2 separate regions of the Homo sapiens genome follow, and region 1 is linked to region 2. Evidence: fine-mapped expression QTL. A gene starts in region 2. The other region holds a variant in brackets. All regions are shown on one strand. Distances are between the middles of the regions.

Evidence for each region. PIP is the estimated chance that this variant, and not a neighbour inherited with it, causes the effect.
Region 1: its variant is fine-mapped to the expression of SERPINH1 in whole blood (TOPMed, PIP 0.97).

What each region holds. Positions count from the first base shown.
Region 1 is chr11:75,582,325-75,590,646 of GRCh38, reverse strand. MAP6 (microtubule associated protein 6) reads left to right here. Exons shown (of 4, transcript NM_033063.2): 4 at 2,463-3,729. The coding sequence ends at 3,588. MAP6-AS1 (MAP6 antisense RNA 1) reads right to left here and starts at 7,451. Exons shown (of 2, transcript NR_145823.1): 1 at 7,366-7,451. RefSeq lists an enhancer at 5,838-6,417 and silencers at 7,164-7,313, 7,324-7,433. The variant C/T (reference allele first, on the strand shown) is at 4,454.
Region 2 is chr11:75,557,359-75,565,680 of GRCh38, reverse strand. It overlaps SERPINH1 (serpin family H member 1), which reads right to left and starts at 3,428. Exons shown (of 5, transcript NM_001235.5): 1 at 3,362-3,428. RefSeq lists enhancers at 2,129-2,667, 2,668-3,208, 3,209-3,748, 6,330-6,871, silencers at 3,373-3,422, 3,433-3,692 and cis regulatory regions at 5,884-6,734, 7,207-7,437.

The sequences.
Region 1 (8,322 bases), 25 kb before region 2:
TTAATCTTAATTATAACCTTCCCATGATTAAAGATACCCACTAAAGAAAAAAGTTTTCTAACCTAAGCAATATGGGGTTATGTATCCATGCAAAGTTGAGGCTAGCTCACAACTGGCTCATTAAACAGAAGAGCCCATTAAACAGAAATTTGGTAGGTGGCACAGGAGCCAATGCTGTAGATATCCAAGGAAATGTACTTCCTGGCCCAGGCTGCAGGGCTGGCCTTCTTTGTGACCTCCAGGCCAGCAGGAGACTCCAGGCCCATGTCCTACCCTTGGGATAGGTTCTGCAGCCCAAGCCCCTGAGATGGAGTTAAGCTCCCTTTTTTTTCTTTTGTCCCTTCTCAGCTTCCTCACCCTGTTGGGAGGACACCACCCAGGTCGCTTCACAATCTAAGAGAATACACCTAATCAATTTCCTGCTTGGCTCTGTTCTGAATTCGGTTTTTCTTTTTTCCTCTCTGACCAGCCACCAGTGACTGGAGGTATTTTAATGCCATTTTTGGATTCCACATGCTTCTCACAGCCTTGCCTGGCTCTCTTCTCAAACACTAAGGTCCTACTGATAGCAGCCAACTGTGTCTATCTGGCCAGAGCAGCTGTGTTCCATATCATGCTGAGCCAGAGAGCTGCCCTGGCCCCTTCCACTGTGATGCTCAGGGACAGCCAGGGGAACTAGATGGAGAGGTTGCCTGTGCTGTGTGGACTCTGCTGAGAAATACCAGTCCCTGGGTGGCTCAGGATGCTAAATACAGTAAAAAGCTTCTGCATCAGGACAACACAGAAGAATAAAAGCAGTCCAAATACACATAATTTTACTTCTAAGTAAACAGAAAAACAACCATAATACTACCCAATAATACCATAGTACAAGGTGCTCTAGGTGCTGACCTCTAATCATTATAGATTTCTGAGTAAATATCATTATACCCAATAAATAGAGTAATAGTAATAGTCACCTTGCATTGAGCACCTACTATGTGCCAGGCACACTAAGGGAAAGAGCACAGGATCCAGGAGCGGAAGGATCCAGATGCTAGTCCGTGGGGGTCCCCTCACTTTCCCCATCACTTGTCCTCTCATGACCTCATTTTCTTCATCAGACAAGTAAGGGTAAGAAAATCCTTCCTGTGTGCTTCACAGGGCTGCTCTGTTGCTGAAATGAGCTATAAAAGGGAGCCATTCGGAAAGCTGGATGTGTTGTAGGCGTGCAAGGGCCTGTGATGCTTGCTGAGCAATGCCACTCTCTCGACTTCCAACATGGCCTGCAAGGAAGGAGTGTGCACTCTAAACCAGAGGGCTCCAGGCTGGCCGGGTCTAAGTGTGGCAATGCTTGCCTTTGAGTGTTAGTGTTGTCACACGCTCTCCACAGTGTGGGTGGGCCAGGGGATGAGGCAGACGGCCACAGTGAGGCGAGGGAACAGTGCCTGAGGATTCTGATGAAAGACTGGGACTCTTGGCTATAGGGAAATAAGCCCAAGAGCCTGGAAGTTGGTGAGGGCAAAGGTCTCAGGAGAGCAGAGAGAGCCAGAAGTGGGAATGGAGTTAGGGGATCAGGGCCTCATCCCTACCTGAAAGCGGAGTCCCATTGAGTCACCTAGCAAAGGTTGGGGGTAGTGGGAGTGGTGCATGCAATCACAGGGCGCACTGTCTATGGAGAATTTAAAGCAATAAAGCTAAAAGCTGCCTGTAGTCCAGCTATTCAGGAGGCTGAGGTGGGAGGATCACTTGAGGTCAGGAGCTGGAGAACAGCCTAGGTGACATAGTGAGGCCCCGTCTCTACAAAAACAAATAACAAAAAACTAATAGCTGGCCTGCTTTTTATTATCACTATATGCTGCTCATTCTATACAATGTCAGTGATAAAATACTTTTCCCCTTGCAGGAGAGGGAGAGAGGGGCATTCCCACTGCTTCCTTTCCTGGTATGCCATGGACCCCTTGCCCCTTCTTGCAGCCAGCACTTAACAAGGGGGTCAGGGAGTCAGGGAGGCAAAAGAACTTTGAAGGCCCTGAGAACAAGAAAAGAGCACCCTGGCCTGTGGGGGCATCTGGTGGGCAGCTGAGATGGGGCTCCCAGGATGGGCCCAACGATCCTAGAAGAAAAAGTAGGGACCTGGATGGAATGTGGGGTGGACGGGCTGCTGGGATGCCTACTGGATGACTCCGAGTCCAGCTACAGTACTGCCATTGTCACCAGCGTGCCACCCCCTGTGCCACGTGCAGGTTATAATCAATTGGCAAGCACATTGAATGACTGATTCCTGAGCCTTCACCTCACCCCCCTCCCTCACCCCCGCCCACATTCTGTACTAAGAACACAGAAATCATATTCTCCTGGCTCTCCAGCAAGAGCTGCCCGGCCCAGGCTCCACTAGGCCAAGACTTATTAGGCAATCTGTACTCTGCCCTGTCCCTGCCTGAGCTCTACTCTCACAGTGATCACCTCTCTCTCCTTTGCAGGAGCCTGGCTCAACCCGTCAGTGATTCAAGTAAGACTCAAGGTCCTGTAGCCACAGAGCCAGACAAGGATCAAGGTTCTGTGGTCCCAGGCCTTCTGAAAGGTCAAGGTCCTATGGTGCAAGAGCCTCTGAAGAAGCAAGGTTCTGTGGTCCCAGGGCCTCCAAAGGATCTAGGTCCCATGATCCCATTACCAGTCAAGGATCAAGATCACACGGTCCCTGAGCCTTTAAAGAATGAAAGCCCTGTTATCTCAGCACCAGTCAAGGACCAAGGTCCCTCGGTCCCAGTTCCTCCAAAGAATCAAAGTCCTATGGTTCCAGCAAAAGTTAAGGATCAAGGCTCTGTGGTACCAGAGTCTCTAAAGGATCAAGGTCCTAGGATTCCTGAGCCTGTGAAGAATCAAGCTCCTATGGTCCCAGCACCTGTCAAGGATGAAGGTCCCATGGTCTCAGCATCTGTCAAGGATCAAGGTCCCATGGTCTCAGCACCTGTCAAGGATCAAGGTCCCATAGTCCCAGCACCTGTCAAGGGTGAAGGTCCCATAGTCCCAGCACCTGTCAAGGATGAAGGTCCCATGGTCTCAGCACCTATCAAGGATCAAGATCCCATGGTCCCAGAGCATCCGAAGGATGAAAGTGCCATGGCCACAGCACCCATAAAGAATCAAGGTTCCATGGTCTCTGAGCCTGTAAAGAATCAAGGTTTAGTGGTCTCAGGGCCAGTCAAGGATCAAGATGTTGTAGTCCCAGAGCATGCAAAGGTTCACGATTCTGCAGTTGTGGCACCTGTAAAGAATCAAGGTCCTGTGGTCCCCGAGTCCGTGAAGAATCAAGACCCCATTCTCCCAGTACTAGTTAAGGATCAAGGCCCCACAGTCCTACAGCCTCCAAAGAATCAAGGTCGTATAGTCCCTGAACCTCTGAAGAATCAAGTTCCTATAGTCCCAGTGCCTCTGAAGGATCAAGATCCTCTGGTGCCAGTACCAGCAAAGGACCAAGGTCCTGCAGTCCCTGAACCTCTGAAGACTCAAGGTCCCAGGGACCCTCAGCTACCTACTGTCTCACCTCTACCCCGAGTCATGATCCCAACTGCCCCCCATACGGAATACATTGAGAGCTCCCCTTGACACTCACCCCTTGACACACCAATGAAGGAGCTGACAGTGAGAGTGCTCCCCTCCCAGGGGCAGTGAAGACACATATTTAATCTGCATGAAACATGTACAGTAGTCTTGCTGGAATCTAATAAAAATGGTCCCTCTGGCTCAGCAATGTTTCTCTCTGTCTCTGTTGGGCAGGGGTGCATACATGTGTATAGGTGGGCCTGTCAGGCTCTGCATTCACCCGTCTGGACCAGAGGGGTCTGAGAAGCACCAGTTCCTGTGAGTTGTCAGCATGAGATGGGAGTGGGTAGGCGATGCTAGATGGAAACAGGACCCCATCACGGAGGTGGGCAGGATAAGGCAAGGGTCAGATACCATGACAGCCTCACAAGAGGTGCCAAATCCCAGCAGGCTGAGCCCTGGGTAGCTGAGTTGAAGCCTGCAGATGAAACAGGAGCAGGGACCCACCTGGCACAGGGGAATTCTGGATGACAGTTGTTTGCCAAGAGCTCAGCCTTAAAGCTCATCCAGGGGTCAAACTTCTTGAGGAAACCAGGCTCTGATCATAAGTCTCAGGACACTGTATAACCTAACACCTGCTAATCCTCATTCAATATCCATGACAGCTCAACTGAGAGCTTCTAAAGAATATACCTAGAGCCAGGCACAGTGGCTCACGCCTGTAATCCCAGCACTTCGGGAGGCTTAGGTGGGTGGATCACCTGAGGTCAGGAGTTCGAGACCAGCCTGGCCAACATGGTAAAAACCCTGTCTCTACTAAAAATAAAAAAATTAGCTGGGTGCGGTGGCAGGCACCTGTAAACCCAGCTACTCAGGAGGCTGAGGCAGGAGAATCACTTGAACCTGGGAGGCAGAGGTTGCAATGAGC[C/T]GAGATTGTGCCACTGCACTCTAGCCTGGCTCCAGCCTGGGCGACAGAGCGAGACTCGGTCTCAAAAAAAAAAAGCGTGTGTATGTGTATGTATGTATGTGTGTGTGTATATATATATATACACGTATATATATATATACACGTATATATATATATATATATATATATACGTGTATATATATATGTGTGTGTGTGTGTATGTATATCTGAAGTCCCCATTCATTTCTCCGTGCAGCAAGCTTGTCCTTAGCATGCACTTTGTGCCAGGCTCAGTGCTGAGCACTGGGGTCACTATGGGAAAGAATATTATGACAATAAAACATGGTATGGGATGAGGCCCTAGGACAAGTCAAGACCTGGCTTTGAGAGGCCAGTGAAGAGAGAACACCTGGCAAGAGCAGCCAGGAAGGCTTTCCAGAGAAAGTGGCTGTGGAGTTCTGATGGAGTCTAGGCAGTCCAGACAGGGCAGACAGGGCGGCATGGGTGTGGCTGAGGACCGGGTAACGCTCCCTCTGAAAGTCCTTGAATGAAAGGAATCTGGTTTGCATGAGGACTTGACCAAGGGTATGGCAGGTCTCTGGGGTGGAAAACTAGGACGAGGCAGGGGTGATCCATTTTCTGAATTCCAGGAAATCAGGGAGGGAGTGGGGGTGCGTCCTGTGGGCTGTGATTGTGGGGCTGGCAGGCCGAGGAACAGCCACAGCCAGGCTGTGGGGAGGACGGCTGGGAGCTGCCAGCGGGCCTGGGGCTCAGCCTCAGTCAAAGATGGGTCCGGCCGGGATGCCACTGGCAGGGGCCGCAAGGCCATATTACAGCCTCCCTTTCAAAGCCCAGAGCCCCCAAGAAGCTAGGGTGGAGGCTCCACCAGTTGCCCCCACCAAAGCTGGCTCCCAAGGAATACTGCTATCCCTTTCAAAGGAGCTCAGCTCAGTTCTTACAGGAAAATCATCAGAGGAAATACAGTATGGAGGACACCCAAATAGTCTAGTTTTCTAAGCAAGCCTTCCCCATCCAACTGGCCCCAAGCCTGCCTCCTCACCCCGTTCCCAACAGCACTAGGGTTTTGTCTATACACACACAAACACACACACACACACACACAGAGAAAGAGAGAGAGAGACGTTTCTTCACAGTGAGGTTGGCTTTTTTTGGCCCAACACAAAAGTAGCCCTCAGAGCTTGCTGCCATATGAGCTCCAATAGTCAGAAACCTGAAGATAAGACAAGGCCACATTGAGGCTAAAGAATTGCGTGTGAAGGTCGGGCTCGATGGCTCACGGCTGTAATCCCAGGACTTTGGGAGGCCGAGGTGGGTGGATTATTTGAGGTCAGGAGTTCAAGAGCAGCCTGACCAACATGGTGAAACCCTGTCTCTACTAAATATACCAAAATTAGCTGGGTGTAGTGGCAGGCACCTGTAATCCCAGCTACTTGGGAGGCTAAGGCACGAGAATCGCTTGAACCTGGGAGGCAGAGATTGCAGTGAGCTGAGATCTAGCCACTGCACTCCAGCCCGGGCGATAGAGCGAGACTCTGTCTCAAAAAAAAAAATCGCATGTGGACACCTTCCTCCTCCTCCCAGTCCTTCCTCTGACCCACACACCAGGTCCCATGACACACACGTTTCCACAGGCCAAGCGAACCGTGGCGCCATCTCTGAGAAGCAGAACAAGGTTTCCCTGAGGGCCTCCGAGACACCCGGGGGCAGATGTCCAGGCCACTGGCTACCAAGGCTTGACCTCTGAAGAGACGTCTGGAAACAGGGCCTGGTAGTCAGCTGCCCTGGGGCTGGGGGGAGGATGGTCACAAGCCCCACATGAAGGACGCTGCGCTCCCTCAGAGAGTGTCAGAATGGAAAGAGATGTGGGTCCTGTTCCAAGCGTTGCGGACTTAAGAGGTCAGAGAGAATCGCCCAGAAAAAGTTCAGAGGGGCTGGCCCGGAGCTGTAAGGAGGAACCAGGGAACTGTGGTGCCCGGAGTGATTCAATCAGGAGACAGTGAGGCCGGGTCGAAAGCTGGGAGGGCCGGCGCAGATGAGGACTGAGGGGTGGCCGCTAGATCTGGCAGTTTCTGCTATGAGCCCAGAGCCAGCCCCTCAACATCTTCATTTGCAAGCCGGTCCTGACGCACAGAGCAGCGCCTCTGAGCTGCAGGCCTTCCCAGCTCAGTCCAGTCCAGCCCTCCACTACCCAGAAAGAAGGCCCAGTGCGGGAGGAGGGGCTCTGGGTCCCCATCTTGGGGTGGGGCAGGGAGGGCGGGGGCGCACCCGACTCTCCTGGCCCTTCTTACAAGCAGGCTTCACTCGAGGCCTAGCTCCTCCCTGCGGCAGCCACTTCCCAGTCTCCCGCGGCGTCCCCTTCCCCACCTCTCCCTCCTCCCTCCTCTCCTTCTTCCTCCCAGCTGCGGGAACTCACAAAGCAGGGGCGACCGCAACCCCGCAGTCCGCGGGCTCCCGCGCCCCTGCTGCAGCCGCCCGGGGAGGGGAGAGGACGGCCCCGCGGCGCCGCAGAAAGGGCGCCCCTACGCCGCGAGGGGCAGGGAGTCGGGGGGTCTCTGGAATGGGAGGCTCCCCACCCGGCCCAGAGGCAAAGGCGACCCGCTGAAACTGGATGGGCCGGCGGCGGAACTCCGACCCGAGAGTCCCACTCCGAAGATGCCCAGGCTCGGGAGGGCGTCTCCGCCCACAGAGCCCCGCTACCAGGGCTCTCGGCTCGGAAACAGCAGCCCCCGTCCCCGCGCACTCGCACAGCCCCCCGCCTGCAGGCTCATCTCCGGCCCCGCCCCGGGCTCCGGGCTCCGCCGCCCGTGCAGCCTGGCCCCGCGAGACCTCGGGACGCGGGATCGGGCCGGTGGGAAGGATAGTGCCCTGGCGAGGGTGGGCGAAAGAGGCCCCGGTATCTGCGCTCTGCCTACCCGCTTTGGGCCGCTAGAAGGCCTGGCTGGGAGACCCTTTCCGGGAGCTGGGCCGAGGCCTCTCTGGAGTCCCCGGTGGCTGGTCTGGGGAAAGGCCGCGATGTTAGTCCTCACACAATGGACCCCACCCGTGATACCTGCCGACGCCCCACACGGCCTAGGCACCTTGTGCCATATTGGGGGAGCGGGGAGACGGTCTATGTGGACAAGGGACAGGAGCCAACTCGGACTGGAGCGACACTTTCGGGAGTCTGTGCCGCTGAGTGGATGGATGGTCTAGAGGAAGTGGGTGGGAATGCACTCGGGTTGACCCAGTTCTCAGCCAGAAACCGGGAAATCCTTTTCAGTACCAGTCTCCGACCCTCAGCTTCCAAACTATCAGTAAGACCTGCCTGGCCTTCCTGCTAAATAGCAAATTTGCCCACTTTTCACTATCTCTATGGCCACCCCCTCTTACCTCACCCATCTCACAATTTGTAATTCAGTCTATGCATCACAGCATGGCACTCAGGTGTAAGAAATGCCACGTCTTTATTTTGGTAAATCTAATTAAATAGACTGGGAGCCCCCTTCTCTCGTTGCCACGGTTGACAGGAAATCTGATATTAGTCATTTTCCTGGAGCCTCATCCTGTCTTTGGGGCTTATCACAATTCCAGGAGGTTCAGGCCATCCTGAGAAGAATCACTATGGCTTCCCTGAGCCCAAGCCGGGGGGCTGGCAGCCCCTCTCCCTCTCCCTAGGGCTTGGCTGGGGACCTCCCAAAGCCTGCCCAGGTTGTGGTATTTCTGCCCAGTTTGCCCAGGCATTCCTATAGCTTCCACATCTGAGCCCATCCCTCAGAGGCCCTGCAACCCAGCCCGCAGGCGCGTGGCCCTTTCTGCACACCTTCATTCCCGGAGGGAAGCCACTCCATCCCTCATCCATCAAAGCACCTGCACTTTCACTCCCTCTCCAC
Region 2 (8,322 bases):
ATGGGGAGCCAAGATGCTCCACTTTGCTGCCCCAAGGGTGACCCTGAGAGTGTGTGTGTGTGTGTCCTGTGTCCACTCAGCCTCAGTCTCCCTTTTCCAAGCTGAAAGGTCCAGGTCTCCATGCCCATGGCTTCTGTCTGGGCAGGAACTTGGAATGCCCATCTACCCACAGTGCTCCCAGTGCGGATGGGAAATCCCCAGGACAAAAGCTCCTGGGGGACCAACTCCTTTGAAGACTCGGTGGGGCTGGGGAGGAGGCTTCCTGACATAGCACAAGGACAGGATACTAGGGAAAAGGGTGAGTCACACATAGCTCAATAGAGCAGTGACCCCCTTCCCCATCACCAGCAGCTGGCCAGATGTGCACTCAGCCTTCAAAGAAGCTGGAGCCACATCAGATTCCATTCTGCCCTCCAATCTGACAGCCACTGCCACACAGGCCATCTGCTCCACGGCTTCAGGGTTGCCCTCAGGCCTCCTCCCCAAGCCCCAGCAGTAGCAGTGGCCCCAAGGACAAGCCCCAGTTCCCTCTCTGGGGCCTCCAATTTGGACAGTCTCTGTTCCTGGGATACTTCCACACTCCCTCTCTCCCTTCGGGCCATTATCCTCCTCTACATCATGCAACAGCACAGGAGAGATGACAGGGCAAAGGGAAGGATAGAAGGAATCCTGGTGGAGGCTGCGATCCCACTGCTCTGGTAGATCCCAACTTGTAGTCATCCTTGAAGAAGACCGAACATTTGAAATCCTGGTGGAAGACCCTCAGGACTCTGGCTGCCTGGGGACCACTGTATTTCTGGGAAGATTCTACTGCTGCCATCCCAAAAACCTGGACAGGCTCCCCATCTCCCGGGACTGCCTCCCTCCTCGGAGCCTTGAAGGTGCAGTATAAGATAAGCAAAGGGTCCAAGGGGAGGGAGGTGGGGAGAGGAGGGAAGGCCCAGAGATCTAAAAATGTCTGGAAGGAGCGGGGAGATCTGAGTCTCACCCTAAAATGAAGGGGATATCTTGGGGCCTAGAATAAACCCCAAGACACCTCCCTCCCAGCTCTGGCTCCTTCCCTGCCAGAACTGGAGCCTCAAAGGCAGAGCAACCATATAATTTATTGCACAAACAAGGACACTTATAAGAGTAAAATGGGCACTACTAATTATTATGCCAGGACAATAGGCATATGGCCACCCTACTCAAAAGCCACCTCTGATCCAGACCAGTGATGCTGGAGCTCAGACCACAGCAGAGGCCAACAGCCTTCCTTCCCTGAGGAGGCAGCTGAAGAGCCCACTCCCAGCCATGCCACGTGGCAGGTACCATCTTGACAGCCCCCACCCCCACCAGCCAGAACCTCAAAGGACTGGGAGGGGCTTCTCAAGCAAGCTCCAAATAACTGGTTTGGGATTCCTCAGGCAGCCCGCTAGGCCCGCAGCAGCTTAGCGCCTGCTCCTGGTGGTGACGTGGCAGGCAGGAGGCTGAACTATCTCCACCGGCCGGCAGAGGGGGGCTTCCAGCCTGGGAAGCAGGCCTGACTCAGGTCCCAGGGGGTGCCACATATTTGCCAGGGGACTCCAGGAGCCTTCTTGGCCTTAGTTCCCTTCCCATCCGCACATGAATCTCTGAAGGGAAATGCGCTACTGGGGAGAAGGGCAGCCCCACTGAACCCAGCAGCAGGAATGGGGGAAGGCAAGTTACTGCAAGCAGGCCAGCCTCCCACAGCCCAGCCCATCTTGCCACAGAGAAATGCCAGCCCTCAGGCCAAGGTTAGCTGAGTTACAGTCCCACAAAGAAAATACAAGATCACCTAGCCAGGGCTGTGCCCACAGCTAGCTGGACTGAGCAGGGTCTGGAAGGGAAGGGGAGGAGATGATGGGACCCCACCAGAGGGTCCCAAACACTTGAGAGGTCTAAAGTACCTGGAAACTGCCTCAGAGGGAGGTCAATGCCTGCCTTTTTCATTCTGAAAGAAAACAGAAGAGTGAAGAGGGCGGGAGCCGGCAAAGGAGAGATGGTGAGGAGGCCCCTGGCGCAGAGGGCACAACCAGTCCCCAATCTACAGGGACCTTGGAGATCGACCACCTCACTGTAAAATGGGAGAAACAAGGCCAGGGCAGGGGGTCACCCCAGGTCCCTCGGGATAAACAGGGGTCTGCCTTCCCAGCACAGGGGTCCTTCCTCACAGAAGCACAGAGCCCCTCCTGAGGGCTGCATGCGGTGTCCTGTTACACAGCCAGTACAAAAAAAAAATCTCTGCTGGGAGTCCCGGTGACAGAGGAGACAAAGGAGAGGACGGGAAGGGGGGATGGGTACATGAACCATCTGAAGACAGGAGGGTGTGGCCCCGGCCGGAATTCCGGAGAACCAAAGCCCCCTCATTTTCCTCAGGCCTCCATCCGGGCCGTACAGCCCAGAGGGACCAGCGGGAAACAAGGAAGAGGAGGGGCTGAGACTCTGGGCCAGTCTGGAAGTGCATTCATTCTCCTTCCTGCTCTTCAGCCACCTCAGGAATGTCTCTAAGCTGGGGGGCAGGGAACCCCAGCCTCTGGAAGTTAGACCCTGCAGTTTAAACCCTGCAGTTACTCCAAGAACCCTGTGGCAGTGGACAGAAGGAAAGACTCAAATCCTTCTAGTCAGCCCCTTAATCCCCAGAGCAGAGCAGACCCTGCTGACCCCCACTCTCTTTTTTCGGAGTGGTAGGGAGCCTCGCTGGCCAAGTCTTTCCTTTGGCTGCCATCATCTAGGCTGCAAGCTGCTGATCAGAAATTGAGCCACTGTCGCCCACTTCTACCAGAGCACACGGACCCCAGGAGTCGAGACGATTTCACCTCCTTTCCCACCACCGGAAGCTCAAATTCCCTCAGCAAGCCTGTGAGGAGGCTGGGCCACCAATCACCGCTGCCCCTGAGCCTCAACCCCAGAACGGAAGTGACCTGGAACTGCGAGGCCGGCCTATCCTCCCTACCCTTGCGGGAAGAGGCACCAGACCCATCTCCTTCCTCCTCTGTTTCTTTCCGCAGAGGCTCTGCTCTCTGCCCCCAGCCCCCTTTACACAGCACCTAGTCTCGTATCTGCCACCACCACCTTTTAGGGGTCCCTGCACTTTTTCCCAGTCCTCCGAGTGCACGGACTCCCAACCCGGCTCCGATCTCCGCCCTAGCCCTCAGCTGGCACCATCACTGGCTAGCCCTGGGCTCTCGATTCCAAACCCTCCAGCGGCCCCCAAAGTGCCGAGGACTCCAATTTGTAGGCTCTGGCTCGGCACCCAACGCTTCGCAGGGTCCCCTCGCCCCTCTTACTCCCTCGCGCACCCCCAGATTGCTCGGCGCTCCCCCGGGCCGCACGCACGCAGGCGTCTCCCGCCCCTCACCTGGGTCGGGCTGGGCTAGCGCCGGGACGTGACTCTCGCTCTCGAGCCGCGACACGATTCTACTCTTAGCCCGCTCCCCTGCTCCCGGGATCTATATATGGCAGTCCCCACCCCCTCCTGCCCGTCCCGAGAAACTTCTGGAAAGTTGGAAACGCTTCCGGAGGGCGCCCCAGCTCCGCCAAAAAAAGCCAAAGACCTCCCTCAAAACCTCCCCGGCCCCCGGCCCCTCCCTCTGCCGGCGCCTCCCGGCCCCTGGGTCCTACTGCCTCCCTCGGCGGCCCGGGCTGCGGGGCGCCGGGAGTCCCCACGGGGATCAGCGTGTCCTTCAGAGTGCGAGCTTCCTCCCACCCCCAGGCTCTCTGCATAAGCTAGCCCACTCCGAATCGCACGTCCTTTCAGGCGCCCCTTTCCCCGCAGGGGCTCTGCCCCAAGCAGAGCCATCTCCCCTTCTCCCCGCTCTCCCCCATTTTCAAGCTGAAACAATTGAGTCCTGTGCACCCCCTCCCTCTCAGGGGAGACGTTCAGGCTTCTGAAGGCAGTGCCCTTCTCCATACTTGTACATTCAAAAAACCTCAACCTCAGCGATGGCCAGAGGGAGAGGGAGCAGACCAGACCCGGTACCTGCCCGGCACCCGGAAAGTTCAAGTCGTGGAGTAATAGAGGCAGAGATGCCTGGGGAACTTCAGGTGGTCTGGCTGGGCTTGGAGGAGTGCACAGGAAGGAAAACCTGGCTCTCCACTGAGCAAGGTGCTGTGTGACCCTAAGCAGGTTACTTTCCCTTTCTGGGCCTCTGTTCCCTTGGCTGTGAAATGTGGTTCTAAGGCATCCCTTGCTTTTTTTCCCCCCTCTCTCCCTTCCTCAATCCTTGTCACCCCTGGCCCCCTCCCTATTGCATCCCCTCCCTCTTTGGGTCCCCTCCCACAGGCCTCAGGTCTCACTGTCAATTCCTACCCCACCCTCGCAAACTGATAGCTCCTTGACCTCCAAGTTAAGCTAGGGTATTCATTACTGTTCTAGGTGCTGAGGACACAGCTGAGAGCTGAACAAAGTCCTTGCCCTGTGCGATGTCCATCTGTGGGGTATGTACCTGTTAGTAGGGAATTCAGTGATTCAGTGAGGCAGATTATTTAGGAAACCCTAAATAATCTGGGCGACAGTGGCTCAATTTCTGATCAGCCGAGGCTCCCTACCCTCCGAAAAGTCCTCTTTAGTAGTTTAATGATAGCTATTGGATGGACGCAGTATGGAGAGGAAGGGACAGGGTAGGGACTCTTCATTCATTCAGTCATGAATGAATGCATTGAGTATCTTCTTTCTTCTAGGTGCTTGCCTGGATCCTGGGGAGCAAAAAAATCCCAGTACCCAGCAAATGAGTCAATCACCTGGGTCCCTGCCCTCTGTTAGTGGTTGTGGGGAAGCCTGGTGGTGGTGACAAACCTCTCTGTCTGGGTAGGCTTCTGCAGCTCAGAGTCTTTTGAGTACAAGGACTGTGGGAAATCTCAGATCCCAAAAGCTTCAGACTCTGTGATTCAGGGTCAAGGAATCAGAGATTACTTCCACTCAAAGCCCCCAAGGAGTCTTTGAATCCAGCTAAGGAATCTTAACATGTTAAAATCTCAGAGTCGAAGGATTCTGGAATAAATGTATTAAAGACTCTGAGCTGCAAGGCATCTCAGAGGTCAGGGGTTCCTGTCTGCAGCCCCAGGCAGAAGCCCTCTTCTCAGTATCCCAAAAAGGCAAGCACCGAGGCACCTCTAAGAAGAGAGAGCTTACCTCCTTCAGAGGCAGCCCCGCATTCTTTTTTAGGACAGGTCTGATTATTAACAAAAGCTTCCAGCCTTGGCATGGTGTCCATCTCTTTGGGGTGGCTGTCGTGGTTCTCATGTGCTTCCTCCTGCCTCAACTGTATATTGCTTTTAAAGATAAATTCTAGGCTGGGCGCGGTGGCTCATGCCTGTAATCCCAGCACTTTGGAAGGCCGAGGTGGGTGGATCACCTGAGGTCAGCAGTTCAAGATCAGCGTGGCCAAAATGGTGAAACCCCATCTCTAATAAAAATATGAAAATTAGCCAGCTGTGGTGTCATGTGCCTGTAATCCCAGCTACTCAGGAGGCTGAGGCGGGAGAATCTCTTGAACCTGGGAGGTGGAGTTTGCAGTGAGCCGAGATCATGCCACTGCACTCCAGCATGGGTGACAGAGCGAGACTCCATCTCAAAAAAAAAAGATAAATTCTTGTTTATCCAAGGAGACCTCCCGGGTCCCAGGCCAGACCCCACTCTCTACTCCCACCCCCACATTGGCCCTCAGGCTTCCTTGTGACTTGGTCAGTGAGCTGAGGGCAGGGCAGAGCAGAAACAAAGAGTGCCCATCAATGCTGGCAAAACAGAGAGGGTCGCCTGGGTTTTCAGCAGGTTCAGATGTCACAATCCCAGTGAGACTCCCTTCCTCTACTCTCTTACATCTCTTAGCTCTTTTAGGCTTCACCAACACCTGAGGGGGAGACTGAGAGTGCTGTGACTGTCCCATTTTGAGGGATAAACCAAAGCTCATGCTGTTAAATAGACCCAGTATCATGAGTGGTCACTGAAGAGAGGACCTGCCCTTACAGACAGCAAAGCTGAGGCCTAAGGAGGGCTGGGTCTGAAGGCCCAACCCCCATCCGACCCCCACTAATCTCACACCGGGTCAGAAGCCTCCTCTGTGACCTATCCCACTGCTGCATTATCTCTGTTATCACCCTGTATTGTCAGTGAACCATCACTGGAGACTTTGGAAGGGCAGGGCCTTTTCCTTGTCACTGTGAGTCCCCAGCTCCAGCAAGGGGACAGTATGGAAGAGGCACTGGGTAAGCATGGCTGGCCAGGGGATGAGAAGTGGCTGCCTGAGGCTGCTGTGCCCCTAGCACAGCCTCCCTGAAGAAGGGAAAGCAACGGCTCCTTTAAATTTCCAAGATCAGCAAAAAAAAAAAAAGTCAAGAGCCTTTGCCACAATATTCTTAGCTCTGAGCCCAGCCCAGACTGACTGTGGCCCTTCCCCCACATTCCAGGCAGAGCTTTCCGGAAAAAGCACTCTTTTAGGGGGTGGGGGAGAAGAGTCTGATAAGCAGAGAAACTCTCAAGCATTTTGTCTCTGGACTCCTCCAGTGCCTCGCTTCACTGAAGGAAGTGGTCCTGGTGCCTGGCACGTGGAGGCTGGCTGGAAATCCTCTAGATCCCTAGGTCCCGAGAGGTGTGGACAGCAGAAAGTAGAAAACCATCAAGTCCAACTGCATCCACACTATACAGAGAGGACAACGGAAGCCCAGAGAGGGCAGGAATTTACCCAAGGTCACACAGCATATCAGAGGTGGGGCTGGGCTGGAGCCTAAGCCCTGGACTCCCAGCCCTCTTTCTCCCACAGTACCCTCTAATGACCCAGGGGGGTATGTAGGCCCAGTTCTGCCAGGTGCTGTGGAAACAGCTTTCTTTGGCCCCAGTGGCTAGATTCACTCAGTCTTCACCCCATAGAATCCTAGGACAAAAACTTGCATGTCATTTAAGTGTGCAACACATTCACATTTATTATCATATTTATTCCTTTCAGGTAAGGAAGAATGTTCCAATTTTCAGCATGAAGAAACTGAGGATCAGGGAGACTAAGCAACAGGGTTAAGGGCACACAACAAGCCAGAGTCAGAGCTGGGTTTTGAATCAGGTCTGTTTATGCCATATCCACGGGAAGGCAGGGAGTGGACGAGAAGGAAGTGACATTTATGGGCCATTTTGCCGCTGCCAGGCCTGTGCTGGGCACCGTCATTAGTGTCTCACTTTTAATTATAGAACGTTAATCGGAAGGAAGTTTAATCCCCTTCTTTTTACATTGGTATAAAATTGGAGCCCAGAAAGCTCCGACAGCCAGTCCAGGGTCGGCCCCCTCCCTCAGGGAGCCAGGGCTGCTATAGGCAGCTCTTCTTTGAGATGCTGTCCAGGAGCCAAGAATGTGCTCTCAGCCCAAGGCATGAGTCAGGAAAACACGATTTCTGTAATCTTGGATTCTCTCTCTTGGAGCGTGGGGCCTTCCATCCAAAAAGGGCTGTCCTGCGTGCTGCCACGTTGGAGGGTGGGCAGCCGGTCCATGTGGGGGTGGGTGGGCACATGATTCCTCCCCTCCTCCTCCCAGAGCAGGCCCGCCCCTACCCGTCTGCAATCCTGGTGCTGAGCGAAGCCACATAGGAACTCCAGCGCCTTCACCCACATGCCTGGCACAATACCCAGGAGACACAAGCCCACTGACTCGCTATATACACAGGCGTATGTGCACCCACATACATGGTGCACACACGGCACTTGAGCAGCCCCTTCACACAATCCATGTACACACATGTCTGTGTAACTCCAGTAACCCAAATGCACCCCACCCCCCTACACAAGTTTTTGTTGGGTATTGACATATACACAGGATCAGGTTCCCCGCCCCCTCTCCCAGCCTCCCTCTCTCAGGCTTCCTCTGGCAACCCATGGAACCAGCTCCAGTGCCTGCAAGACCAGGCCTGAAGGGCTGGTGGGATGGAGGATGTGTGTTAACTACAGCCCTGCCTTTCCCTTCCCGTCTTGTTCTCCTCTCCCTTAGGTGCTGCTGAGCCTGTAATAACAGTGATGCCCAGGTGGGCTACAGGGCTGTCCTCCCTTGTCTTAGCATCCCTGACACTCAGAAAAGGGACTCCTGAGCTCTGACCACCCCCTACACCCTGCCAAACCACCTCTAATCTGCTTCAGCCCAGTTCAGCCCTGCTGTGCTATGGAGTGTGAAATGCCCTCACTTGGGGGTTAGGAGACCTGGGATCCTGCCCCAGGTCTGCCACTTCTTGGCTATGTACCCATGATTTAAATTACCCCTCTGTAAAATAGGACTGATAGTCTGCAGGATGATGAGACACACAGATAAAATAATGAATAGCAGAGGACTTTGTGAACACTAAGTG